Linked DNA regions of Homo sapiens: regions 1, 2, 3, 4, 6 and 7 are each linked to region 5. The links come from fine-mapping of genetic effects on gene expression. A gene starts in region 5. Each other region holds a variant in brackets. All regions are shown on one strand. Distances are between the middles of the regions.

Region 1 (4,067 bases), 31 kb before region 5:
TTTTTTTTTTTATAATTTTTGATTAATGTAATTAACTATCAAAGTACATGTTAATAGATTCACCAATCCTAAAAGCTGTTGGGGTGGCCCTTTGCACCTCCCCACTTTCTGCTACATAGCTTGTTTCTCTGGCTCTTTTGGTTCTCGTTTCCTTTAGTTGGCTGTTATTTCTTGCTACTCTCACCTGCACACTCACTAGAAATCTTGCCTTCCCCCATCTAATCAGAACTTTAAAACATAAAAATAAAAAACCCAGGTAGCCAAGTTTGAACGCATCATGTCTGAAGTAAATCATGTCTGAACGAAGTCCTGGAGGTCTGTCTCCAACCACCTGAGGAACCTGTTGAAATGCTTTTCCCCAGGACCCAACTCAACATGTCCTCATAAGACTCTGGATCACACAGACACTTAATTTGTATGAATGTTAGAATTTGAGAACCTCTGGCTTATGAATTCTCATATGACAAAATATCCCTTGAATTCAAGGCTATGTCAGGCCAACACGTCACCTCTGGTGCAGCTGAGCTGCTGCCCAAAGCTGGAGTGGCTCAGGAGTCAGCCATGATGGGCTGGTTCCTGTGCCATGCCAGGTGGGAAAATCACAGAGACTTGGTGATCTCTGTTTTGGGGGCTTTTTTGAGACAGGGTCTCGAGAGCTCTGTCATCCAGGCTACAGTGCCATGGCACAGTCATGGCTCACTGCAGCCTTGACCTCATGGGCTTAAGCCATCCTCTCACCTCAGCCTCCCCAGTAGCTGTGACCACAGGTGCACATTACCACACCCAGCTAATTTTTTGATTTTTTGTAGAGACATGGTCTCGCTATGTTGCTTAGGCTGGCCTCAAACTCCTGGTCTCAAGCAATTCTCCTGCCTCGGCCTCCCAAAGTTCTGGGGTTACAGGCATGAGCCATCGTAGACTGGTTCGACCTCTATTTGGAACTGAGATCACTTGGGCAGGTGGAGGGTTAGATGAGGAGAGAGGTACTTCTGGGCTCCTCTATCTTGGGGTTGGCTGAGGTTTCCGATCAGTGGCCCTTGGATGATTGAGGCCAACCTGGATTCATGATGTGGGGAGAAATAGGGTAACTGTCTCATATTTTCCAAGTGTGAGACTGTCTTCACAGACTGATTAACTTCCACAACAAAATAAAATCATGCAGCCTATTTACCAGAGATCAATTAAATTGGCCACACTCTTTTTATAACTTATTCCCATTGGACTGAACATTTAATAGTTTATATTATACTCAGCTAAATTTCAATATAATCTACCACCCCCACTTTTACCTAGTACTTTTATCAAAATGATCGCTTGTACTTGAGTTTGATATGTTTACTTAAAAGCTTTTTTATGTCATTTAACGAATAGTCATTGAAATGTTGTCATCCAAATAAAAAAACAGTTTTAAAGCCGTATATATGTCTACTGCTTCTTCCCTTTAAAGAAAAGTTTCGCAGATTTTATCTTGCATTTTAAATTAAGCCTCCACTTTTCTTGGATATGCTGATGGTCAAACTATGAAACCTGTAACTGAAGAACACGTGCTAAAAGGATCATAGAGCATGTTATCCTTACATAACATACTTAGAGGCATGTAACATACTTCGACGCATGTATTATTACAGCCTCAAACACCACCACCACCACAACAAAACAACCACTCCAGAATGAAAATACTGGTATATTTGTATAATGCAAAGAGAAATACAGATATAAATCCTCAAAACGGAAGGTACATTAATAAAAATGTAGCATTATAAGCCAAAAATATTATATAGTACTTGCAGAATTTAGTCTTTCAGTTTAACATTATAATGTCTAACAAAGAAATATTATTTAAATTATAGTTCTCATTATTAATTTAAAACAACCATCAGTAGAACAGCACAGCTTAACCTAGCAAACATTTTAAGGAAATGCTTTGTTTCCTAGAAGGAGGATATCATTATATTCCATTCATTTATACCATAAACAACAGAAGAACAATTTTCAAAGTGGAAATTAGTTTCATAAGACAGAATAAAACTGGGCTTCTCAAAGCACAAGCCATTTCCATAAAATTAA[T/C]TTTTTATTGGCAAAAAATACTTAAAACAATTTTGATGTAGTACTCTGCTTCTCAGAGCCCTCCCAATCCTCGAACCACAATCTATACACACGAACACATGCAATACTGTATTTTTCTCCACATCATTACTAACCAAAACACTTTACTCTTTTAAAACTTACAACTTGACAGAAATGTTTCCATTCAAGATTGCTATAATACAGAGAGCAGTTGTCACTGACGTGGTTTTTAGCAGCAGAAAGTAAACCGGGAACCAAATCTTACTTGTTACTTACTGCTTTAAAAAAATGACTGCCTTGCTACTGATCTCCATCTCTGCTCTTTAAGTTCAATATCAACACTGAGACTTTCAAAGAACCAGCGCAGCACAAGGACCCTGCAGCCGGCAATTCAGAGGGCATTTCGGACAACTTCCCCCCACCCCCCACTTTCTCCTGCTTCCAACAGAAGATCCTCAAGAAATCTAACTTGTGAAGAAGTCCCCCTAGGTTCCTCTACTTCACTGCAAAATGTAATGCCACTTGAGGTTGTCAAAAATAGCTTCTGTAGAAAACTGGCCATGGTCTTTAGGAAACGTTGCATGAAGAAAATTAGTACAGCCTTTATAGAAAAAGAAAAAAAGGAACCACACATGGAATAAAAGACGTCAGTACCGCTACAAAAAGACTGCAGGGCCTATTGTCAGGAAGAAAGTCGAGTTAGGAGGACGAATGTGCGGAGCTGGAGTGGGCTGAGCATCCTACTCCTCACCCACCCCACCCCCAAAGGAGTCAGTACAATCCAAGTGTCTGTCCACTTCGAGTCATTTTGAAGGCAGCTTAGAAAATTAAACAGGGGCCAGAAGGAAAAGATACAACGTCACCGTCCGAGCCAAAGGGAAAGGCTGGGTTGGGGGTCTATGTGGCGGGGCCTCCCTCATAAACCAATGCCTTTCAGGTCGCAGGGATGGGTCGCCTGGGTGGTCCGGGGGCTCTGGCAGCAGGGGAACTGGGCCCTGAAGCAGTCCCTCAGCTCCCTGTTGAAGAGGAAGCACACGACGGGGTTGATGCCGGCCTGCGCGAAGGTCAGCCACACGGAGGCCGTCAGGTAGGCCTGGGGGACGGCGCCGGGCCGCACCAGGACCCGCAGGTAGCTGGCCACGACGTAGGGCCCCCAGAGGAGCAGGAAGAGCAGCGTGACGGCGTAGAACATCTTGCACAGCCTCTTCTCCGTCTTGAATTCTTCCAGCACGAGGAGGCGGCGCGCGCCGCGGCCCGGCCCTGCGGGCCGGATGCCCACAAGCGCGGGCGGCGTGGGCCCGCGGCCGAAGCCCGCCGTCCAGTTGGCGGCCGCCTGGCCGGTGGCGCCCGGGCCGTGGAAGGTCCAGTCGTGGCTGACGGCGGGCACCAGGCGCGCGGGCCGCATCTTGCGGCGGTCGTGGATGAAGAAGAGCAGGCGGAGGTAGACGAGGTGCGTGGCGCCCACCACCACGGCCAGCAGCAGCAGGAAGCCCAGCGCGCCGGGGGCGCCGTCGGGCCGCTGCTCCAGGGCGCACGGCGCGTCCTCGTCGTCGCCACCGCCGTCCAGCACTGGCGGGAAGGCCGCGGCCAGCGCCAGCGCCCAGGCGGCGCACACCAGCATGGCGGCGCACGGCCAGCCGGCCAGGCGCTCTGCATAGAAGCGGTGGTGCGCGATGGCCAGGTAGCGGGTGACGCCCACGCCCAGCAGCAGGAAGGCGGCGTGGAAGCAGAAGAGCGCGGCCAGGAAGGCGAGCAGCTTGCAGCCCAGCGCGCCCGGCGGCGCCCCCGCCGCGGCCGCCGCACGCCGCGCCGCCAGCATGACGGCCGGGAGGCAGGCGAGCGCGCGCAGCCCGTCGGCCAGGCACAGGTCGAGCAGCAGGTAGTACGGGGCGCGGTGCAGGCTGCGCTCCCGCACGATCAGCAGCGCGAACAGCACGTTGCCCGCTAGGCTCACGCACAGCAGCAGGCTGAGCGTGGCCAGCTTGAGGCCCAGGGCGGCC
Region 2 (4,067 bases), 42 kb after region 5:
TCCCAGCTACTCCAGAGGCTGAGGCTGGAGAATTGCTTGAACCTGGGAGGCAGAGGAGGTTGCAGTGAGCCAAGATTGCGCCACTGCACTCCAGCCTGGGCTACAGAGCAAAACTACGTCTCAAAAAAATATATATATATTCTAGAGTTCCTAATTAAAATTAGTAATTTTGCAAGCCAGATGATAGGTCTGAATATCTATTGGCAGGGGGAAACTTGATTTGGAAAAATAAAACTTAGCAATTTTATGAAACTTCATTTCCCATGGAGAGTGTTGAGAGGTAGGGAGCAGGGGCACCTAGATATAATTGCTGTCACCCTGGTGTGGTTCTTTGTTTTGTTTTATTTTTAGTTTATTTTTAAAGATAGGCTTGTAAGCGGCTCTGTCTTGGGTTGTGTCAGGCACCCCCTCTCCCCACCCCCTGCAATGCATTTTGTGGGGCACATTTTCCCCTGCGGCATTTGCTTGCAGCCCAACATACTCTCTTCATCGGCTTGCTGAGATGACTCATCCTCCCAGGCACAGCAAGAAGAAACAGGCAGCATGCCCATTGCTTGTTTATTCCTTGTTTTAATTTTCATTATTACGTTTCTCAGGAAATGCACGCCTTAGCTAACAGTTACTGGCAAAAAAATAAATAAATAAATAAGGTGTTTGAGTTCTTGCCAACATTTGGGGAAGCTGAATGAGATGCCTAGAGGAGGGTTGGCCCATCCTTTGCTTAAAGTTTTCTTTCCTTTTTTTCTTTTTTGTTTTTTTTCTGTCCTTTAGCCCATGAAGAGCATCATGCTTTTGAAGGTGGACGTGGAAAACACTAATTGCACTCTGTAAAGAATTCTTTGTCCTTTGCTGATTGGTTTTGGAAACGGTCTTAACAGGAGGGAGAGTGAAGAGAAGACTTGCCGAAGCCGATGCTGGTCAATTTAGAGTGGGTTTCTGTCCTTGCAGATGGGCAATTAGGACTCAAAGTGGCAGGTGGGGTGGGGGGAGATTGTGTGGGTTTCTACCGTCACATTACTTGCTTTTTAAAAAAAACACACACAAAAAACTTTTTTTTTGGCTTTCTAAATTCTCTGTTCTTTTCACTCTGATTTTTTTTTTTTTTTGCCGTTTAAAATTCCTTATTCAGCCTAATTATTGTTTTCTACACTCCCCTTTCATTGAGGCACAAGAAATGGGTTTCCCTTTAAGTAGCTCTGCTGTACCTAGTTAATGAGAATATGCATAATCGTGACAATACTGCTTTTGAATACCACACTGTACAAGGAGGAACACTAGCTTGGAGAAATCTGTCTTCTGATTATTTGTTGTGACACATTCCTATGTACTGTGAGCTGGGCATTGTTTTTTTCTGTCCCAGGGAAAAGAAAAACCATACTTAATGTGATTTTGCACTGACAGCACACAAATCTTTAATTTTCCTTTTTAAAACATTTTTTTTTAGTGATAAAAGGAAAATAATAGTTGGATTGCATAACATGAAAACTATAATCACAATTCAGTATCAGGATATAAATCAAGCTCTAAGTCTTTGGACCCTCTGTGGAAACATTTCTAACCCGAATTTTAATTTGGCCTTTTCAACCAAAGGCTTAGAGTGGTAGCAAGGGATTTCTTCCAATAGGAAACCTGATGTTTCTGATTTAAAGAGAAGGTGATATTTTAATTGTTTGAATTAAGCTCCTTGCAAAGTTCGGGTGTGTTTACCCACTTAGGGCTTTCTTTCCCAGTCAACGCTAACACATTTTGTTAAATGATCCCTTTCCCTGCTCACATTGTGTGTCATTTCTCATCATCAGTAGTCCTCCAGCCTGGGCAGCTGTCCCCACCCTTTTTCATGTAGGTGCAGGAAGTTAAATCTCATTTCCAGGATGCATGTGAACATTTACAAAGTTGAACTTTGAGTGCATTCTGCTCATATGAATTATTGGGATTGTTGATATATATTGTATTATGCTACCAAAGAAATA[T/C]TGGTTTTATTAGAAGGAAATGGTCATCCTCTGGACCATGGAGACTAGCTCAGAATACGCTGATTTCCCTCTCCTGACTTTGCCAAGCCTTTGGCTGCTTTTGCCTGATAAAGGGCAGGGCCATCTGAAGACACTTCCCCCAGTCGGCTTTGGAGTCACGGGAGCTAGTGCCTGCTCACACATTTTTCAAAAGGGCAGTGCACTCAGAACTTCACTGTACCTGGGATTTTTAATTCCTCTTGCAGTGTTGACCAGCAGAGAGACTTGAGGCTACTTTAAGCCTCCACTATGTGTTTGTAGATAAAATTCTCCATTCAAACATTTTAAAGGACTTTGAACATTATCTGCTTATGGAAGTTGTGCCCTTCACTTGGTTAGTAACCACCTCAGCCATAATACTTACCATCATAGGTTTCTTAAAATGCTTTTTTTTTTTCCCTAAACTTGAGTTTCCTTAGTGATTTCAAAATGAAGTATAAGAATATCAGATCCAGTTAGCAAAAGCCTAGGACTTGTTTCTCCAAACATTGTACTAACATTCAACTTGTTTTAAAATTATGACTCAAGAATTTTAAAAAATTATTCTGGACATGAATTAAAACTTTTTTATAATATAAGTATTTTTCTGATTGAAAAAAGGATATAATTGACTTCACTCTAATTGTCATGTATATTTCCATAAGTAAATGGATTTTGAAGTATTTTTATTTTTTGAACTTTATTTAAAGCATTTGTGATGACATGTTCAACTTTTGCATGTATGTAGCCTTTGAAGTAAAAATAAATAGGAATGTTAGGCTCACGTTAATATTTCTAGTTTCTGTTTATGATCATGGAACATGACTAGCACACAAAGTAGATTTTTGCCCCAGTGAACTTCTGCAACTGTTTCTGACCCTTTAGAAAATACCAACTGTGAGAAGGATTTAATTTGCCTAATGTTAAAAACCTATCATCTAAATTACTTTCAGAGAGGATTTTGTCAGATTTTGGTTTGGAAATTGTTTTAATTGAATATTTAATCATAATAGACTTTGTATGAACTAAGCTGATTTAATCAGTTTAAAAACCTCTCATTACCTTCTTAGATTAAAGAAGCTAATACTGTTTTGAGATAGAAGGAAATATTTTGTGGGGCATGTGACTTTTGTGTTAAGGCAGTTTACCCATCTTGGCTGATGTGGGGAAAGTGCAAACTTCCAGTAGAATCCCGGTCTTTTCATCCAAGTGCTTGCAGGGGCAGCCTTGTAGTCTGCAAAGAACCATGCAGAAACCAAAGAGCTTGCTTTTTTGTCTTTGTAATTCCTTAGGGTCTGTGATATATGCCAGGAAATCTGATTGAAACTAATATGCTTTTTATTCTCCCATTATTCCCTAAATTGTTATATCACAGGCACTTGCCTACATTGGGAAAGTAAGGACAAATAATACCCATTTAAAGTAACTTGCCTATATTTTGACTGTCTTTCGTAAGCACTTGCTGAACTGCTGACTTAACTCAGTTTTAAGATTTCCTCTTTCCCCCCAACTTTTCCACATTTCTTAAATGAGGGTGTAATTTACTGCAAACATGTACATTTAATATAATATTGCTGTTAGATTCGTGGTACACTTTATGAAGCAAAAACATGAAAAGGAAACCACAACTCTAATAAACTTTAAATTAAAGATTAAGATGACTCTTTCTCACCCCTCTTCTTGAGTTTAGCCCATGTCTACACCATGCACACAGTCACAAGACTTTATAGCTTAGAAACTTTAGGTATAATTGGGTCCTATAGACATAATATACAATCCACCAACTGAGCCTTGGCCGAACTTGTCCCTTGTTAAAGACGTAGGGCTAGCCAGCCACAGAGCTGGGTATTGAAGTCGGCAAGTTGTATCCCGGTGCAGGCGTCCTTAAATGGAGAGTACTCAGAATCTGCCAGCCTTAACCTGCCCACTAGCCACCCTAATCAAGCATTAAATATCTGATCCAATCTGGCCACTGGTGTAACTCCGTAATCAGACATCCTGTTTGTAAACAGCTCCTCCTTCTCTCCCTCTCCCTCTCAGAGACAGAAGTGGTGCTGGGGTTTGGAGTTTGAAAATAAC
Region 3 (4,067 bases), 80 kb before region 5:
ATGGTGGCTCAAGCCTATAATCACAGTACTTTGGGAGACCGAGGCAGGTGGGTGGCTTCAATTCAGGAGTTGGAGACCAGCCTAGGCAACATAGTGAAATCCTATCTGTTAAAAAAGTACAAAAATTAGCCAGGTGTAGTGGCGCATGCCTGTAGTCCCAGCTACATGAGGGGCTGAGACAGGAGGCTTATTTCAGCCTGGGAGGTTGAGGCTTCAGTGAGCCCTCTTGCTGCCACTACACTCTAGCCTAGGCAACAAAATGAGACCCTGTCTTAATAATAATAATAATAATAATAATAATAATAATAATAATAATAATAATGAAATGGCTGGGCTCAGTGGCTCATGCCTATAATCCCAGCACTTTTGGAGGCCGAGGAGGGAGGGTTGCTTGAGGCCAGGAGTTTGAGACCAGCATGGGCAACATGGTGAAACCCCATCTCTATAAAACACTTCAAAAATTAGCCAGACGTGGTGGCACACGTCTGTAGTCCCAGCTACTCAGGAGGCTAAGGTGGGAGGATCACTTGATCCTGGGAGGTCAAGGCTGCAGTGAGCCCAGATCACACGACTGCACTCCAGCCTGGGCAACAGAGCAAGACCTTGTCTCAAAAATAAATAAATAAAAAATAAGACAGTAAGGAAATGTATTATCTTACCTAACTGGAAGGAGTGGCACCATCAGTAGCTGAAAGATGTCGTCAGATAACTGACTCTCTCCGTCTTTCTCATGATGTTGTAAGCCTCATTTCCAAGTGCCTCATAATAACAAGACAGTTGTCAGTGGCAACTGGAGCTACATACTTCTTTGTTCTCAACTACCTGGTCAAAAATGGAAAAACCACATCTCCAAGTGTGTAATATAAATGTTTCCTTCATTTTGATTGAACCAGTCCTAGTCACAGGACCAATGAGTCATGCAGGCAGGTGATGGGGGAATGGCACATGCCAATAGCCTCCTTAAGATTCACTCCTGGCCTGGCGCGGTGGCTCACGCCTGTAATCTCAGCACTTTGGGAGGCCGAGGTGGGCAGATCACGAGGTCAGGACATCGAGACCATCCTGGCCAACATGGTGAAACCCCGTCTCACTAAAAATACAAAAAATTAGCCGGGCATGGTGGTGGGTGCCTATAGTCCCAGCTACTTGGGAGGCTGAGGCAGGAGAATTGCTTGAACCGGGGAGGCAGAGGTTGCAGTGAGCCGAGATTGTGCCGCTGCACTCCAGCCTGGCGACAGAGTGAAACTCTGTCTCAAAAAAAAAAAAAAAGATTTACTTCTAGAGTCTCGGGTCACATTCTTCTAAGCTATACTTGGTCAGAATCGGAGTTGTGTTAGGAAGAAAGACACAAGTGAATGGATGCGGGGCAATCAGTGTTCACCAATGTACTATTGCTCTCAGAAAATATGGAGATGCCTCTTTTTTCATATTTTAAAAAACTTCTCAATTTTTAATTTTTTTTAAGTTTTAAATTTTTGGAAATAATTGTTTTGTTTTGTTAGTTTTTAGAAAAAGGATCTCACTCTGTTGCCCAGGCAAGAGTGCTGTGGCATGATGACAGCTTACTGCAGTCTCCGACTTCTGGGCTCAAACAGTCCTTCCGCCTCAGCTTCACAAAGTGCTGGGATTACAGGCATGAGAGAGGATGAATTCTAACACATTACATTGTGGTTAGAAACTATGTTACCAGATATAAGAAATAAAATAAAATTACATCTTCATATGTATATTTTATATATTTATAGCTAGCATTTATTGAGTGATTGCTTTGTGCCAGATCTGGCTTTGTGCCAGATAGTCACTCAGATACTATTAAGTGATTGCTTTGTGCCAGATACTACCCATCATTTCCATCAGCCTTCACAAATACCCTTATTTATTTCCTCAGAAAATACTTATGAAGCCCCTACCATACTTCAGGCACTGTCTTGTCACTGGGAATATAGCAACAGCAGGAAAAGACCAAGACCCAGTCCCTCATGGAAACTACATTCGAGAAATAGGAAACTGTGGCTGAGAGGGATTGAGTGAATTGCCCAAAGTTACACAGCTTGAATGTAGCAGAGTCGAGATTTGAACTTCAGAAGTCTAATCTAACTCCAAAGTCAAGAATGGGTGTATTAGTCTGTTCTTGCACTACTATAAAGAAATACCTGAGACTGGGTAATTTATAAAGAAAAGAGGTTTAATTGGTTCATGATTCCTCAGGCTTTACAGGAAGCATACTGGCTTCTGCTTTTGGGGTGGCCTCAG[G/A]AAATGTACAATCATGGCAGAATGTGAAGGGGAAGCAGGCACATGTTACATGGCCACCCCAGGAGGAAGAGAGAAATGGGGGAGGTGCCACACAGCTTTAAACAACCAGATCTTGTGAGAACTCACTCGCTATACTGTACCAAGGGGGGATGGTACTAAACCATTCATGAGAAACCCGCCCTCATGATCCAATCACCTCCCGCAAGTCCCACCTCCAGCATTGGGGGTTGTAATAATTCCAGTTCTCAGCCAATGGCAGGCTTCCTTCTTTCAAGCCTTGACTTTTCAGGGGAGAGCTCTCTGGGGCCTGGAGGAGGCATTGCTCTAGGGGTCAGGCACCATGCCCCACAGTGGCATCACTGCTTGAGAGCACCCAGAACAATGAAAGGCAGCCTGTGAGCCAGGGGAGGGTCCACTCAAACCAAGGGTGTATGGAGCAAACTGCGTAAGCATTGAGGCCCCAGGAGAGATTTGCACAGGAGATGCAGGTGCCCAGTATGATCAATCCCTCTCCCCAGACCTCCAGCCATCATTTGCAATAACCGAAGTTAACATTACCTGATGCTTTGCTTCTGGGGAACCAGTGTGCACAACCTCCTTAAAAAAAATAAGGGTTTGGCTGGGCTTGGTGGCTCACACCCATAATCCCAGCACTTTGGGAGGCCAAGGCAGGTGAATCACCTGAGGTAAGGAGTTCGAGACCAGCCTGGCCAACATGGCAAAACCTCATCTCTACAAAAAATACAAAAATCAGCCAGGTGTGGTGCTGCACACCTGTAATCCCAGCTACTCGGGAGGCTGAGGCAGGAGAATTGCTTGAAACTGGGAGATGGAGGTTGCAGTGAGCCGAGATTATGCCAATGCACTCTAGCCTGGGCAACAAGAGTGAAACTGCGTCTCCAAAAAAAAAAAAAAGAAAAGAAAAGAAAAAAAGGAAAAAAAACGGTTTGTGGCATGTAGTGGGGCGAGACTTTCAGATTTCTGAGCAGGAACCTAAGCTGATAGAAGAATTGTACACACTAAAAATGCCTGGTCCCTGTCATATTGTAGTGATCTGTGACCTTAAATTTAAGTATTCAACTTTCACCAGGTTATTTTGAATTTGAGTTCTGCTAGATAGAATCAAACCTATGTAAGGCTGGGCACGGCAGCTCGCGCCTGTAAATCCCAGCACTTTGGGAGGCCAAGACAGGTGGATCATTGAGGTCAGGAGTTTGAGACGAGGCTGACCAACATGGTGAAACCCTGTCTCTACTAAAAATATTAAAAAATTAGCCAGGCATGGTGGTGCACGCCTGTAATCCCAGCTACTCAGGAGACTGAGGTAGGAGAATTGCTTGAACCCAGGAGATGGAGATTGTAATGAGCCAAGATCACTCCACTGCACCCCAGCCTGGGCGTCAGGGGGAGACTCTGTCTTATAAAAAAATAAAAAGAATCAAACCTATGTTACTAATTGTTACTGAATCATCTGAATTTGACTGGCTTCAAAAGTGTCTTTCCAACAGGACTGTTTGTTTAATTGGGTTTAATATTATGCATTTTTCAACCAGTCTTGAAGAAGTTTTCAAACTCCCACTATGTGTCAGGTGCTATGCTAGGCACTGGGTGAATTAAAAAGGCATAGTCTGGTCCCCGGAAGCAGACTCAGAGATAAAGATTTTTGTGAAAATGATTTATGAAGGCAGGGTCTCCTGGGAACACTGGGCAAAGTAAGAGTAGGGGAACACGGCAAAGCAAGAGGAAGAAGCCCACCAGAGTGGCGATCTCAAACCAAAGGCCAGACTCCACCTGATCCTGCAGGGAGCTCTGGA
Region 4 (4,056 bases), 53 kb before region 5:
CTTAACTTTCTCCTTTAAGAATTACGTTGTTTTTGGCTGGGCATAGTGGCTCACACTGTAATCCCAGCAATTTGGGAGTCTGAGGCAGGCAGTTTGCTTGAGCCCAGGAATTTGAGACCAGCCTGGGCAACATAGTGAGACCCCGTCTCTATAGAAAAATTTTTAAAAATTAGCTGGGCATGGTGGCACACACCTGTAGTCCTAATTACCAGGAAGGCTGAGGTGGGGGAGGGGATCAGTAGAATCCAGGAGTTTCAGGCTGCAGTGAGCGTGATCTTGCCACTATACTCCAGCCTGGGTGACAGAGCAAGACTCTGTCTGGAAAAAGAAAAATTGTGTTGTTTTCATGCAGTATTAGTACAGCTTCACATGCCCTAGATGCTAGAATCACATAGCCTGTTTACTGAAACAAGGGAAAAGTGACATATCCCATGGAACTATGTTTGTGTTAATAACAATCATAATTGCACCTTGTTAAATACTGTGATGTACCAGATCCTCTATATTAAATGTTGTATATGTACTTCTTACTTAATACAGCAAGCCTGTATACAACATTAAGCCCCAGAGGGGTTCAGCAACACAGGCTGTGAGTAAACAAGAGACACTCAACTTCATTCTTTGTGACACTCTGTTGTTTATGTGGTCTTAATCATTACACGCTTCTGCCTCCGCGAAAGCAGTCGTTGGGTTTAATTTGAACACTTTGTAGTCCAATTAACCAAAACTGGTTTGTTTGGATAACAGAGACAAAATGATCACTGGAATGAGTGATAACAGTTCAGAATGGGAATTTGTGTCGTCCGATAGTTTTGATGAGTGTTCCAATCCTCTGCAATATTTAAAAGAGAACCGAATTCTATTTCCCTAGTTCCTAGATAACTTCAATTTCAGGTTTAGTCCAAGATTAATTTTGAAAGTAAACAAATGCAGTCTTCTTGCATAAGCCTGGCTACATCTCTTTGGTTCTGTTTTTATCATGGATCCAATAATGAAATCTTTAAATAATAGAGTATGGTTTTCAGATGTTCACTTGAAATGTATTTCTGGAATTTTATTTTCTAACTTTTCATATTGGTTGCTTTTTTATCTTCAAATACATTTTCAAAGGTTATTTTGATGACCTATTTTAAGAGAAGATCCTAGAGTTGTACTTGTTCCAGATGAAATTTACCTATTGTAGAAAAAGATCTAGTTTCTTCCAGAATATCTCTCAGCTGTATGGTCTGTTCAAAACAACTCAAGAAAAAAGTCTTTCCTCAATACATACTGATGAACATTATGTACAGTATTCAATTATGCTCTGAAGTTTAATGACTCATTAGTAGATAGTAAAAATGTAGACCCTATATAGAATTTTTTTTTTCATTTTGTTTCAGCTTAGTCATTAGCCACCGAAAATCCGTTTATTTGGGTCAAGTGAACAGTATTTGATGACTGAAACTGAGAACCATAGATAGGAGTTTATAGCTACCGAGTTCAGTTTGCTGTTTTATTTAACATGTACCAATTAACTTGTACAGTTTACAGTCCCTGACAGGCTATTGTTTTATAATTGTATAGTTTTGAACTTTATGTTTGATAATTTTAAGATAGAATAAAATATGTGAGATATATGAGTTCACCTAGGAAGCATAGTATGCATATTTTCTAAATACATTTTAAAGCAAATAATAGTTTTAACAGGTATTCATTTTTCTCAAATTTTTTATTTTATTTTATTTTATTTTATTTATTTATTTTTTTGAGACAGAGTCTCGCTTTGTCACCCAGGCTGGAGTGCAGTGGTGTGATCTCGGCTCACTGCAAGCTCCGCCTCCCGGGTTCACGCCATTCTCCTGCCTCAGCCTCTCAAGTAGCTGGGACTACAGGCGCCCACAACCACGCCCGGCTAATGTTTTTGGTATTTTTCGTAGAGACGGGGTTTCACCTTGTTAGCCAGGATGGTCTTGATCTCCTGACCTCGTGATCTGCCTGCCTCGGCCTCCCAAAGTGTTGGGATTACAGGCACATTTTTCACAATTTTTTAACACTTAAGAATGACTTAACTGAATCATGCCTTTAGAAGAAACTTTCTGTTTAAAAAAAAAAAAAGACAAAACAACAAGGTTTCTATTAATGCCGGTAACTTTCCAAAGTTTACATAGAAGATTAGCCATTTCCTTCCCATTTTGACTAATGTTTAGCTTTGAAAGCTTTGAACACTTTTTAGTATTCAATAATTATGTGATTAATACTTTAATCTTTATTGCTTATTGTATTCTGAATTTTTTCAGTTTAAACAACTATGTTTCCTTCAAACAATCTTGTTTTTAAATTTTCCTGCGCTTTTTATGTGAACATTTTTAGCACCAGGTTTTTTTAAAAACTTCACTTT[C/T]CTTCCTTTTCTGAAGGAAAAAAATTCAAATAAAAACCTGGTACTTGTTTTATTTTTTTAACTTGATATTTAAAAAATTATTAGTGGTTTCTACTTTAGAACCAACCTATGAGGAAACATTGTAAACATAATTTCAGAATATGAAGTCATTAAAATTTTTACATATTTTTTAAAGTAAAAAAATTTTAAAATACTAAAATATAACTAATGCAACTAGAAATTTAGCAAAAGATGGGGAAGAAAGCATAATATGCTGATTTTCTCATCTTTCCTATCACAATGTCAAGAGCTACTGTCTATGATTATTTCTTGGGATAGCATCATAGCAGTGTTTATAGGTTCAGTTCAGCAAAAAGACTTACAAGACAGAAATAGGCTTTAGTCTAATACAGGTTTCTCAACTTTGGTACTATATGCGCTTTGCCCAGTTTCTCCCAATGGTGACATCTTGCAAAACTATAGTACAATATTCCAAGCAGGATATTGACGTTGATACAGTTAAGACACAAAACATTTCCATCACTATAAGGATCCCTCATGTTGCCCTTTTATAAGTGCTAATTTCTCTTTAAAAGTGCTGCAAAAGAGTAAAAGTCATGCTTTCTCAAAGTGCTGGATGTTCTGCCTCGGTAACTTCTAGAATTTGCTGTTTGGAATTCTAGGCTATTGGAAACTTTGCATTAAGTGTTGGTTGATTCTAAAGTAAACCATGAAGTTTGGACTAAGTGGTTCCAGTGTGCATCTTCTGTAAGCACTTTCTCTTGCATTTGTGATTATGAGACGCCTGTTAGCTTTGTCACACAGTATCTGTAGATCTAGAAGTGAGTGGGCCAGTCAAGAAACGGACAAGCATCTACCGAGTGTATAATATCAGAAATCATGGTTTTTGGCCAGGCACAGTGACTCACGTCTGTAATCCCAACACTTTGGGAGGCCAAGATGGGCAGATCACTCGAGGCCAGGAGTTCAAGACCAGCCTGGGCAACATGGCAAAACCCTGTCTCGACTAAAAATACAAAAATTAGCTGGGCATGGTGGCACATGCCTGTAGTCCCAGCTACGTGGAAGGCTGAGGTGGGAGCATCACTTGAACCTGGGAGGCTGAGGCTACAGTGAGCTGAGATCATGCCATTGCACTCCAGTCTGGGCACAACAACAGAGCAAGACTCTGTCTCAAAAAAAAAAAAAAAAAAAAAAAAAATGAAAAGCGAAAAGAAAAAAAGAAAAGAAGAGAGAAAAGAAAGAGAAAAGGAATCATGGTTTTTGTCGTTAGGAGCTCACAGAACTGAGTGAACTGGGTTTGAATGAGAAAAAAGCACCTAAGTATTAAGGACCCTGCAGTTCAGTGTAATCATTATGTTAGGGTCAGTCAAGGCAGATCCAGATTGATGTTCATACAGTCTTGGTGTCCTTGATTTAAAGAAATAATACAAAGATTTTTTTTAAGTTTCACAAAAACAGATGACCTTGTGAACACACTACCAGGGTCCCTCCTAGGTCCTGGATTAGAGGCCTATACATGAGAGGGGCTTCGGCCTCTTGGGCTTCATGGTGAGTCCATCTCTGAGTTTGGTGGTGTGAGTTACGTTTTGCCTGCTCGGAGCTGGGCAGGGCAGTGAGGGGAGCCTTGGGATCTGAGTTGGTCATCTTCTGCCCTTCGGGGAGTTCCTAGACTCTGT
Region 5 (4,067 bases):
GGGAGACCTACTATTCACAGCTTGTTTTTACGTTGTGGACTTGTTAGTGTTCTGTGTAGAGAGGTAGGAGAGTCTGGCAGTTGAAAGTCTAGACTCTGGAGTCTGAATACCTATGTTCAAATCCCAGCTGTCCCACTTACTAGCTCTGTGACCTTGGGGTTATCTTAATCTTATCTCTGTTCCTCATCTGTAAAATGGGTTAATAGTATCTTCCTCATTGGCTTATTGTAAGGATTAAATGAGTTATTACGGGTAAAGTGCTCAGAGCAGTTTAAACAATGCCATATACCACGCTTCTTGGAAAAATGAAAGGAGATATTAAGCAACAAGATAAATGCATCTAACCAAAAGCACCCTCCCCTGTTTTAGTGTTGGACAGATTTTATAAAATCTGTCATTGCTTCCAGCATTGTATGTTGTATAGAAGTTAAGTTTAAAGCAGCGGTCTTGTTTTTATTATTGTCACTTTATGTGACCTTGATTACCTTTTAGGGAGGGCATCTACTCTGGGATTCATGACAGTCTGCTATGATGCTGTTGATGCCCCTGAACTCATCTTGTTTTGTAGCTCTTCCATCCCAGCGAATGCTCAAGGCATGAACAGAACACATGCTAGGCCAGGTAGAAGGTCAATGAGGAGATGGCATCCCACGCCCTTCACTGTTCAAAGCCAGAGAGGAACTATCTAGAAATTCAAGTGTAAAGAGGATGTCCATGCTGGTTGTGACATGTGTGTTCACAGGCCTCATGCCTTTGCTTTTCTTTTGAAAAAGAAAGTGACAGAGACCTGGGGAGATGCTGTGTTAGGAGGGCCCCTCCTACTTTGGGCTCAGGAATCTCACCGCCTAAGGGACTTCCTGGGTGCTCAGAGGTACAGGAAGCAGAGCGCTCTGTGTTCACAGGTGCCCGCTTTCCTCCTCCCGACTCGCCGGTGCTTTAGGGCAGATCTGGATACTTTGGCTGATTTTGGGAAATGTTCTCTGAAGTTAGCCACACGTTAAGCCAGGCTTGAGGCCTTCACTGTGGTCACATGGTAGCTCCAGAGGTTGGGATGGGGGCTCTGGCCCCTTCAAATCAGCGGAGTTAGGAAGTATGCTCTCACCAAGAGGAATGCAAAGCCCACCTGCTCCAACCTCATGCCCCAGTCGGTGGTTCTCTTGTTCGTTCTTCTTTCTCGCCCTTTGTTCTGTACTCGCGGGCACTGGAGTCTCTTTATCCATTTGGCCATCGGTTCCCCTCTCCATTTATCTGTCACACCCAACTGTGCTTCCATCTGCCCTCCATCCCTCCTTCTCTCCTCCAGCCATCTGCCAGCCTTCACTCCATCCTTCTGACTGCTGGTATGTCTGTCCATCCCTCCTTCCCTCGCACCACGTGGGTCTGGGGCTCCATCCCCTGTCCCATCCATCCCTCCATCTGTCCCTAGCCTGCCGCTCCATCCCGCTGCCCTTTTGCATGGCTGCAGAGCCAGCCCGCAGACCGTTCCCCGGTCCCTCTCACCCCCGTGGGCCCTCTAGCCCGTCCCCGGCCGCCACTCCAGGCCAGGCCGTCAGTCTCCCACGCTGGGCCCGCGCCTGAGCGGGATCGGCCCCCCATCCCTCCGTGGGTCTGTCTTTGTTCGGCGGCCCCGGCCCGGCCGTGCCTCCCACGGCCCCTCCGCGCGGCTCCCAGGCCCTGAAGGCGGCGGGCGGCGGGCGGCGGGCGGCGGGCGGCTAGCCCGGGGCGGGGCGGGGCGCGCGGGGCGGGGCGGGGCGGGGGCCGGGGGTGACTCAGCCGCGCTCGCCCCGCGGTCCGCGCGTCCGCCGGCCTTGCAGGCGGGGCGGAGAAAATGGCGCTGCCCCCGGCCGCCGCGCCCCCCGCCGGGGCCCGGGAGCCGCCGGGGTCCCGCGCCGCCGCCGCTGCCGCCGCCCCCGAGCCGCCGCTCGGCCTGCAGCAGCTGTCGGCGCTGCAGCCTGAGCCGGGCGGGGTCCCGCTGCACTCGTCCTGGACCTTCTGGCTCGACAGGTGAGGGGGCGCGGGGCCCGCCGCGCACGGCCCCGACCCGGGTCCTGCCGCCACCGCCGCTTTGTCTCGGCGCGGCCCCTCGCCCCGGCCCCGCTCCGCTGTGGCACAGACCTCGGCCCCTCCGCGCGTCCGCCTGCGCACCCCGGGACTCGCCCCGCCGGGTCGGAAGCCAGCTTCGGGCCGCGCCGGGCGGCTGTTCGGCGTCCTCGCCTCCGGGCCGGGGGAGGACAGCGCAGCCCGAAAAGTTTCGGCAACACTTTCTACCCCTTGTTCCCTTCCGATCGGAACGCGGCGTGCTGGCAGGGCCGTGGGAGAGGGTAGGCGAGCTGGGGGTGGCCGCGTCCCTGCTGCAGGGAGAGGGCTGTCCTGCTTACCCCGCGGGGCGCCTGGGAGCTCAGGACACGACCTCAGCTGTGACAGCGCTCGGAAAAGTTGCCCATCCCTTGGGAGGTGTGCGGTGGTGCAATGATTATTGCACGGCGGGCGCTCCCACCCCGTGTCCGGCCGCTGCTGCCGTGGACTCCTCTTCCAGTTCTTCCTCATCCACTGGGCAGGTATTTCCTGAACACCTACAGTGGAGCCACACACCTGCTATGCGCTGGAGATTCAATAATGAGCAGCAGCTGACCTTGTCAGGAAGGGGGTGAATTATGGCTTTCTCAAGGGACAACCCAGGTGCCATCTTTTCAGAAAGACCCCCTGACTACCGTATCTAAAATAGAAACCTTGCTCCCTCGTTTTGTATTCTCCTGCCCTGCCTTCTTTTTCTTCCTAATGCTTAATGCAGCTGGATTTTATTATATATGAATTTGTTTACTTTCAGTCTGTCTCCCCAGCTCCTCAACACCTCCCCTCAGTTAAGGATAAAAGAGCAGTGGATTTTTGTTTTTGGACATTTTGGACCTAGAACTGTGCCTGGTCCCTAGTAAGAACACCAGAAATTGTTATGAATGAATAGATGGATGAATGCAAAGCCCCTTCTTAGTGTCTGCCCTGCAGTGGGTGCCCAATGATGACACCTCAAGGTTGTCCCAAGAGCATTTGGAAATTTTGATGAAACCGTGTCTATTCTGGCTAAGTGTTAGGAAGAAATGTGTGACAGTGTTCTGAGAAGTTTGCTTGGTACACACAAATCTGGTTTTAAAAGGCTTTGCATAAAATGACTGCAAGATTTTGTTTTAAAAAAGTGATATTCATTTTTTTTTTGGTTAAGACAAGCTCATTTCTTTTTTCCTTTTGGGTTCTTATAGCACCCGTCTATAAGAATTGTCACTTGCTGCCATTTTCTTTGCCGGAGACCCAAAAAAGTTGGGGGTGGGGGAGATGGAGTGAGTTTCGTTCTTTCAAAACATTTTCACTTTCATTATGGGATGCTAAGAGAGCATTATACTGTCATAACAAGCGTGCTTTTGGCAGACCTTAGCAGAATGAAATCGTGTCTGTTTTCATAGGTGTGCTGCAACTGTGCTATTGTTACCTGGTATCTGTTTTCAAGGTGTTAAACCTGGACCTGTGGTCTAAATTGTGAATACTGCTGACTGGTGGAAACAGTATCAAGAGAGTTTCTTTTTAAACAGGTCTAAAATTAGTTTACATGTAGGAACAACACTTTTAAGGACTGGTCTAAAATGTCAATACTACAGATAACACAATCTTTTAAGACTAGTAGCTTAAGATTATAGTAACTTTAATGAAGACAAAAACTATATCTATACTATTGATTTACACATTTTTGTTCTCTAAAGGTCGATCATCAAATGAAATACATTATTGCCACAGTGTCCAGATCTTTAATAGAAATGGCTGTATTAATTTAGAAATTATAATGAGTTCCAATATTGTACATATGAATTCATTTTGCCCGATCAAACAACTCATAATTTTTATTGAACTTTTTCTCCTTCTGTGGGAATCCATTACCTTTATATAGGGTGCCCCTCTCCCCCTTGAGGTTATGAACACATTATGATCTAGAAGTTCATTAGTAACTTTTCTCCCCAGGTAAACAACATTCTAGAGACTGGTGAGGTTCTCAGGAGAGCCCTCCAAGGCAGCCTTACCTG
Region 6 (4,067 bases), 86 kb before region 5:
AGGCAATTGGCTGCTGAGCTGGCTGTGGTTACATAGATAACACTGGATTTTGTCAGGAGAGCAAATACTCTCTAAAAATTTTCTCATTATGCAGAAGTCATTGACTCTATAAGTACTTACTCTTTCCTAATAGTGAAACTGCCATCGTCTGGTAGATTGTATTATTTATTCAAAAATTATTTCTTTTTTATTGTACATAGATTGTATTATTATTCAAAAATAAATAATTTTTGAATAATTATTTTTGAATAAATTTTGAATAAATAATTTTTGAATAAATAATTTATTTTTGAATAATGATACAATCTACCAGATGATGGCAGTTTCACTGTGAATCGATTATCCCTGTGAATCGATTATCATTTCCTGCCCCATGACTGCAAGTCAGGCCCAGACCTGGGACTTGAGGAAATGCTAGTGAAAACGATTGCTGTTACTTATCAACAGAGGCCTTAAGGGCCATCATCCTCTTTCCTTGCTGCTCTTCTCCCTCTGCTGTGATAGAAGCAATATTAATATCTGAGGTAAATATCCATATGATTTCAGTTAGTGATATTATTTGGTATGTTTTCTGTCCCTGCCCCTCCACCCTGCCATCTTTTGTTCCTGTTTTTCCTCCCCTGCCTTCTTTGTGGTTATGTTGTAGAAACTCTTGATTCTGTTACATTCTTACAAAGAATGTTGATGGTTTTGTTTTAGCAGGCAATTAACTTAGACAGGCTCAAACTAGGAGTTCTCTCTTGTGTATGGAGGGCCGCAGCTCAGATCTCAATTCTGTTCTCTAAGCCTGACCTACAAGCTGCTTTGAGTCTGCCCCATGCGCAGATCATTCAGGTGTCAGGAATTGGGGCAATATTTATGCACAGAAGGCTTTTGAGGCTCCTCTGCCCTGGCTCTCATCTCTGGGATTCTCTCGTCACTTTCCAGCAGCAGCGGTTGCCCCAGAACCTTTGGTTCTTCAGGCCAAAAAGAGCAGATGTTCTCGTGGGTTTTGCCCATCCATGCTGTCTGCAGCCCAATCTCAGACTGAAGTCATGAAAATGGGAAACTCACCCTCTGATAATCCCTCTTCCCTGTTTTGACTCCCTCCCAAAATCTGCCTGGTTTTGCTCGCTCTCCAGAGTATTTTGTTTGGAGTTCAGAGCTGTTGCCTGCGAACAGGCCAGGCTCTTAGAAATCTACTCTGTCATACTGAGGTGAAATTCTAAAGCCAGTTCAGGCATATAATAAGAACTAAAAATAAACTTCTGTGGTTGAAAGCCATTAAGACTTGGGGTTATATTTGTTTCTGCAGCCTAACTTACCCAAAACTGGAATGTTGCTTCTTAACCATTTCACATCTATATTTGTGAAACTTATTCAAGGACAAATGAATTTCCCTGAACGTTTCTGATGCTGTGAATTTTGCTTTTCTCCTTCCACTGTTAAGATACTTTAAGTGGTACCCTTTCCATCTTAACTTCCACTGAAATCATGAAGAAGACTGTCCCTTAACTTTTTAAGAAGATGTTCCATGTTCCATGTTTGCACACTCCATCCTTATCACTGAAACCACAGGGTTTAGAGATCAGGATTCACCATCATCTAAATTGAATACACATCTAGCATACTGTGCTACTGACAGAATTGGTCTTGGTAAATTATGAAACATTTTATTTAAAATATATGATTAATTGACTTCTGCTAAAGCATGGTAACATAAAAAACCTGTAAAGAAGGGGTAAAAACAAATTAGACAAAGGAAAGCATTTTTCTTGGAATTGTCATTTCAATGTCCACTTCCTTAGAAATGATTCCATAAAAAGCATGCCTCTCTTCATATAATATAACCAAGCAGGTCTCTGGCATAGATGTTAAGTATTATGATATTGCCTTTAATAAAATGCAAGATTCTAAATATGCAACCTTCAAAATTAGTGTAAAAACTCTACTTCTCTTAGTTGATTAAAATCATGAAAAAAAATACACACATACACATTTATATTTATATATTTTTCCCTAAGTTGATTACTTTCCAGTCTAGCATCTAATTGGTAACAAAAATCTCTTTATAAAAGTCAAAATCTTTATACAGAAATCTCTTTATAAAAGTCTACAGGGGAGTTGTAGATTAGAAAAGCCTTTTTGAAATTCATGACAATCTTTTAGTATTATCAATTTCCACTTAAATTACCAGAAGATCTGGGAGGCTGAAAACAAGAGATGTCCTACAGTCATCTTCACAGCTTCCTCTTTTTCATTTGAACATTTATCTATAATTATTTTGTAAATAGCCTGTACATATATAGCTCAAATTA[T/C]GATTTCTTTTTTAATTTATGTATTTTCATCAGATTCTCTCTATCATTTATTCAACCAACATTTTGGCCACTTTGGGCCAAGCACTGCGGCTGCAGGAGTGAACAAGACAAAGCTGCAGCCTTCATGCTTCTCTTCCTTTTTTTTTTTTTTTTTTTAAGATGGAGTCTTGCTCTGTTGCCAGGCCAGAGTGCAGTGGTGCGATCTCGGCTCACTGCAACCTCCGCCTCCCAGGTTCAAGCGATTCTCCTGCCTCAGCCTCCTGGATAGCTGAGACTACAGGCCCGCACCACTACGCCCAGCTAATTTTTGTATTTTTAGTAGAGACAAGGTTTCACCATTTTGGCCAGGATGGTCTTGATCTCTTGGCCTTGTGATCCACCTACCTCAGCCTCCCAAAGTGCTGGGATTGGTTCTTCCTTCTATAGGAGAGGCAGACAGCAACCAGTGGCACAAATACAATCACTTCAAGTTGTCAAATACGCTATGCAGAAATGTAAAGCAGGATAAGGGGTTAAAACCTACTGGAATGCTTACTTGCTCTATAATTTATTTACCTTTGTATCATTCTGAATTACAGTAACTGCTTTGAATTATAAGTAATCCCTACATAAAAGATTAATGGTTTATCTACATTTTGCTTCCACTCACCCCAAATTCCACCACGCTACTGATGCTGCCCTTCCTGAGGAAACCAAAGACCTCCTCATGTCTAAGTTCATTGAACATCTCTCACGCTTTTCCTAAGTTGACTCCTTTGCACATCTCTCACTGTTGCTCACTCACCAAAATATTGCTCCTGCCCTGGGGTCACCTCTGGCCGTGCTTTCTCTGCATCTTCTGGAATCTTCCCTTCATCTGGTAGTGTACTAATTATGCATTCACACTGAGGAGCCCAGGAGGGCTGGGTCCTCTACCCTTTTCTCTTCTTTTTAAAATATTCGCCTTCAGGCATCTTATGCATCCCTCATGCCTGCTGCATTACCCACATATACTCCAGTGACTCAAAAACTGTCTCCAGCTGAGGCATTGCTCCCAAACTCCAGACTAGTGCCACCAACTGCCTTAGGACACTTCTCCTTGGATGTGCCTTGGGCTTCTGACATTCAATTAGTTCAACACTGAGCTCAGCATCCCACTTAGTCTCCACGCACCCCACTCAACCATTCCCCATCACAGAAAGTGGCACCACCATCTACTCCTCAGCTGCCTAAGCCAGAAAGCAGGTGCCATCCTCTCCCTCACGCTTCTCATCTTCTTAATTACAAAATACAGTGAAACTGACTTCCTTAATATTGCTTAGATCTATCCACCTGGCTTCATCCTCATTCTTACTCCCTTAGACCAGGCCACAGGGTGACAGACACACTTTCAGATTTGCTAATTTCAATCCATCTCCACCCTGCAGCCAGGATGAACCGTCTGAGCTCTTCATCTGATTGGGGCTGTCCTAGGCTTGATGTTCTTTATAGCTTCTCTCAGGGAAAAAGACTATCGGACATTAACCTATGTACCATTGCAGATTCTTTCAATTTCTTCATTTCTGAAGAAGCTCAGCTTGGCCATGGATGAACATCCCAAGCTGCCTGGGGCCCAAGTTGAAGCCGTGGGCCGGTTGAGTCTACACACCAACCTCTGCTTTGAGTCATCCCTCCACTTCCAGAATGGGATGAAATGTCGCATGATGGAGCATGACATCTGGCTTCCTGGGCAGCCTCCAAGCACCAGATGCTGCAACCCAGAAGTGTGGGGAAATTAACTCCCCATGGATG
Region 7 (4,067 bases), 64 kb before region 5:
TTTCTAGGTACTGGAGATAAATTAGTGAACAGAACAAAGTTTCTGAACATCCCTTATCCTGTGGCGCTTAGATTCTGGTGTATGTGTGGGGAGGTGGGGGCAGTAAGGCAACAAAGATAAAACGTAATATGTAATAGAATATGCTAGAAGGTCTTAGTGCTAGGGAAAAGTGAAATATAAAAGGACTAAAAGGCAACTGGCATGCTGGGGCAGTTGCAAATGTAAATAAGGGTGGTTAGGATAGGCCTCCTTGCAAAGGTGAGATTTGAACAAACATTCGAAAGTGACAAGGGAGTCTGCCATGTGGCTATTTGGGGAAAGAGCAGTCTGACAAGGAGAAGATCCAGGACAAATTTCCCAAAGTGGGAGCATGCCCTGAGTGTTCTAGAAACCTCCAGGGGGGCAGTGTGGCAGGAGCAGAGCTGGCAGGAAGACAAGAGGTAGGAGTAGTAAACAAAGTCAAAGATCTGAAGGTCTCTGCGAGAGAAACGAGAAACTACTGCAGGGTTTAGAGCAAAGAGTCTAACTTACTTTAAAAAAAAATAGGTGTTGATGATAGAATGTAGAGGGCAAGGGTGAACCCGGGAGGCCAGTCTTGAGGCAATGACAGTGACAGTAATCCAGGCTGGAGGTGACAGGGGCTCAGAACAAGAAGGGTAGCATGACAGAGGGTTTATTATTAAAATATATTCTGTTTTATTTTATTTTGTATTTATTTATATATAAAATATTACATTATCACAAATATAATTATATTATAATAAATAATAATATAATATAATATAATATAATATAATAATATAAAGTAGATTTGCCTTCAAAAGGCAACAAGATTTTCAGACAGATGGGTCTTAGGTGTGAGAGAATGAGAAGGGTCAAAGATGACTCCAGGGTCATCTTTGGAAGGATAGAGTTGCCTTCAGTGAAAGGGGTTTGGGGGTTGCCAGAAGGTGTTGGGATGTGGACAGGTTGAGTCACACTGCAGGGAGGTCTTCCTTATGAAAGCTGCTCATGTCACACTTGCCCCATTCTTATGATTTTTCTCCTTCCCCGACCAACCATGAAGACCAAGATCTTTAGTGTGGCCTACATAAGACCCTGCAAAGGATCCCTGCCATCCCTCTGGCTCCGTATTTGTTCCAGACTTCGCTTTAGGCACATTCCTTGGGCCACATTAGCTACCCTTTTGTCTGCACTGTCTGGAATGCCCAGCCATCCTCCATGTCTGCTGTTTTATTCTTTTTTTTTTTTTTTTTTTTTTTTTTTTTTTTAAGACAGGGTCTCGCCATCACCCAGGCTGGAGTGCAGTGGTACAATAACAGCTCACTGAAGCCTTGACCTCCCAGGCTCAAGTGATCCTCCCACCTTGATTCTTCAGGTAGCTGGGATTACAGTCGCCCGTCACCACTCCCGGCTAATTTTTTAAATTTTTTTGTAGAGACAGGGTCTCCCTGTTTTGTCCAGGCTGGTCTGGAACTCTTGGGTTCAAGCGATCCTCCTCTCTCGGCGTTCCAAAGTGTTGGGATTACAGGCATGAGCCACTGCACCCAGCCCTGTTTCATTCTTCACCTCAGTTAAATTCTGCATAACCTTCAGCTCTCATCCCATATTCCAGAACTGTAAGGAAAGCTTCAGGTTTCCTCATATGCTCTCTCATAGTGACCCTAAATTTATCTTCTGTAATTATAAAGTTGTATGATTATTTGATTCATGTGCATCTTCCCATGAGATGGTAAGCTCCCAGGGGGCTGGGTTCATGTCTGTTTTGCTCACCCTCGTACCCCCAATGCTGCACACAATATCTGGAATATAGTAAGTCTTAGTTAATACCTGTTGAATGAATAAATTATGGTTTTCTACCCACCTAAAAGAAAATATTAGCTTACACATTTACTCACTTTCAGAGTCTTTGTATAATTCTGGTATAAAGAATGCTGTACTAGAAAAAATACAAAGGAAATTACACATTATTATTTATAATAGCAATTACTAATATAATTCAAAGTTCATTATGCTCATTAAGGAGTCCAAGCCATGAATGATTCATTTCCTGTAGAATATAGCACTGCTCACCTGATACCTTGTTGTCTTCAGAAACCAGTGACAGACTTGCACTGTCTGTCCCCTTGAAGA[C/G]AGATTGTCATGTGGCTTGTTTTGGTCACTAAAAAGTGAGCAAAAGTGACAGGCATGAATTCCAGGCAGAGAAAGCTGGTGTACAACCCTCTGGCTGCACCCAACTATGTTAGTTTCCTGTGTCTGCCATAATGAAATCACCACAACTGGGTGGCTTAAAACAATAGAAACTTATTCTTTCGTGGTTCTGGAGGCTAAAAGTCCAAAACCAAGGGGCTGACAAGGCCGTGCTCCCTGTGAAGGATCTGGGGAAGAATCCTTCCTTGCTCTTTCAGATCCTGATGGCTGCTGGCAATCCTTGGTGTTCCTTGCCTTGTAGAAGCATTGCTCCAATCTCTGCCCCCATCTTCACTTGATGTTCTCCCGTGTGTGTGGGGGGGGTGGGGTGGGGGGAGTCTAGCCTGTGTCTCTGTATCCAGCTCTCCCTCCCATTTCTCTTATGAAGACACCAGCCATTGAATTTAGAACCCACCCTAATATAGCATGACCTCATCTTAAGTTGATTACGTCTGCAAAAACCCTATTTCCAAATAAGGTCACGTCCACAGGTACCAGGGCTTAGGCCTTGAAAATAACTTGCTAGGGGTCACAGTATAGGCCACTACACTGGCAATCATGAAGCACATGTTGAAATGGAGCCTTATCAGTCAGCCTGAGTCCCAAATTGACTGCCGTGAGACAGGCCTGTGTCTCCCAGCTCACTTCATTTCAGTCACGTGGCCCCCAAGTAAAGAGACAGGCTGAATCATCTGCACCAGGTAAAGCTTCCATCTCTCTTGCTTTTTGGTGACTACCTTTAACGGATTCATATACATGACATGAGTCTGTACTGTATATGATCTTCTCGTAACTGTCTCTGGACTGTCCTTCATGGGACATATTCCTGTTGCTGGTCACTTACTGAATGCCTGCCATATGCCTATTATCGTGCTGTGTGCCAAGAGGGATGCATAGAAAATTAGACACAAGGATCCTAATCATGAAAAGTGTACAATCTAATATAGTGGGCAGGACAGAAAAGACTTATATCAGCATTGGCTGAAATTGTCAGGGGAGACCAAATAATAAGGCTTAATAAGAGGTAACCCTAACAGAGCTCCCAGTCTGTTCCAGGCACTGTGATAAGCATTTTGCAGGTATTATTAAATTCCATAGGGGTTGTACCCCATGAGGTTGGTATTTTATAACCATTTTACAAGACCGGAAACAGAGGCTTCAAAAGGTTGTGTAACTTGCCCAGTGGTCACACAGGATTCCAATCCTGATCAGCCTGTCTCACAAACATTGGGTTCTATAGACGCTCCTAGATTGCATTTTCGTTTAAGCTGAGCCTTGATGGTCTGCTGGAATATGGTAGGCTACACTTTACACACACAAGGCTCATTTCACCTAATACAGTTATGCCTGGGCAGAAGTGATCATGTGGCAATATCAACAGGTTACAGTAATAGAAAAGAATCAATAAACTACTGTTTCATTTCTATGTCATTGTTGCTAAGTTGTCCCAACTACCTTTTTTAATGGACTAATCCAAACTCTTTTTTTTTTTCATTTTTCCCTTTATAACAATTGAAGTCAGACTTCATTTTTCAAACTTGGCCTCAGATACAAAGATGACATATCAAGAGCCTTCATTTCTCTCCTAAAGCATTAAAGCAATTAAAATTTCCAAAAGAACATGAAACTAAACAACCCTATTTTTAAGTGTTTCCAAACTTATTTCTTTTTTTTAAACTTGTTTCAAAACAGCCTTATGAGGACTGTTTTCCAAACAGCTGTGTAAGAAGCCAGCCACTTTTGAAATCTGATTTTTCCTGTGTAGACATATCATATTTTCTATGCTTGAAGAAGCAGGGAATACCCAAGCTGGCATTCAATAGTAGCGAATATGAAATAGACCATTAAAAGAAAGTCATAGGAATGTTAAAATCCAT

The links. PIP is the estimated chance that this variant, and not a neighbour inherited with it, causes the effect.
Region 1: its variant is fine-mapped to the expression of EIF4E3 in whole blood (TOPMed, PIP above 0.99).
Region 2: its variant is fine-mapped to the expression of EIF4E3 in whole blood (TOPMed, PIP 0.98).
Region 3: its variant is fine-mapped to the expression of EIF4E3 in whole blood (TOPMed, PIP above 0.99).
Region 4: its variant is fine-mapped to the expression of EIF4E3 in prefrontal cortex (BrainSeq, PIP 0.95).
Region 6: its variant is fine-mapped to the expression of EIF4E3 in whole blood (TOPMed, PIP above 0.99).
Region 7: its variant is fine-mapped to the expression of EIF4E3 in whole blood (TOPMed, PIP above 0.99).

The regions. Positions count from the first base shown.
Region 1 is chr3:71,754,094-71,758,160 of GRCh38, reverse strand. It overlaps GPR27 (G protein-coupled receptor 27), which reads right to left. Exons shown (of 1, transcript NM_018971.3): 1 at 1,665-4,067. The coding sequence ends at 2,984. It also overlaps a transcript of EIF4E3 not described here. Among named protein-coding and RNA genes, the nearest start is that of GPR27, 2.3 kb to the right of the region's middle. The variant T/C (reference allele first, on the strand shown) is at 2,068.
Region 2 is chr3:71,681,433-71,685,499 of GRCh38, reverse strand. EIF4E3 (eukaryotic translation initiation factor 4E family member 3) reads left to right here. Exons shown (of 7, transcript NM_001134651.2): 7 at 772-4,067. The coding sequence ends at 818. Among named protein-coding and RNA genes, the nearest start is that of EIF4E3, 42 kb to the left of the region's middle. The variant T/C (reference allele first, on the strand shown) is at 1,971.
Region 3 is chr3:71,803,623-71,807,689 of GRCh38, reverse strand. No RefSeq gene overlaps it. Among named protein-coding and RNA genes, the nearest start is that of PROK2, 21 kb to the right of the region's middle. The variant G/A (reference allele first, on the strand shown) is at 2,254.
Region 4 is chr3:71,775,887-71,779,942 of GRCh38, reverse strand. All of the region lies in intron 2 of PROK2 (prokineticin 2), which reads left to right. Among named protein-coding and RNA genes, the nearest start is that of PROK2, 7.2 kb to the left of the region's middle. The variant C/T (reference allele first, on the strand shown) is at 2,378.
Region 5 is chr3:71,723,129-71,727,195 of GRCh38, reverse strand. It overlaps EIF4E3 (eukaryotic translation initiation factor 4E family member 3), which reads left to right and starts at 1,794. Exons shown (of 7, transcript NM_001134651.2): 1 at 1,794-2,004. The coding sequence starts at 1,829. RefSeq lists silencers at 2,070-2,139, 2,270-2,389.
Region 6 is chr3:71,809,438-71,813,504 of GRCh38, reverse strand. No RefSeq gene overlaps it. Among named protein-coding and RNA genes, the nearest start is that of PROK2, 26 kb to the right of the region's middle. The variant T/C (reference allele first, on the strand shown) is at 2,298.
Region 7 is chr3:71,786,798-71,790,864 of GRCh38, reverse strand. No RefSeq gene overlaps it. Among named protein-coding and RNA genes, the nearest start is that of PROK2, 3.7 kb to the right of the region's middle. The variant C/G (reference allele first, on the strand shown) is at 2,134.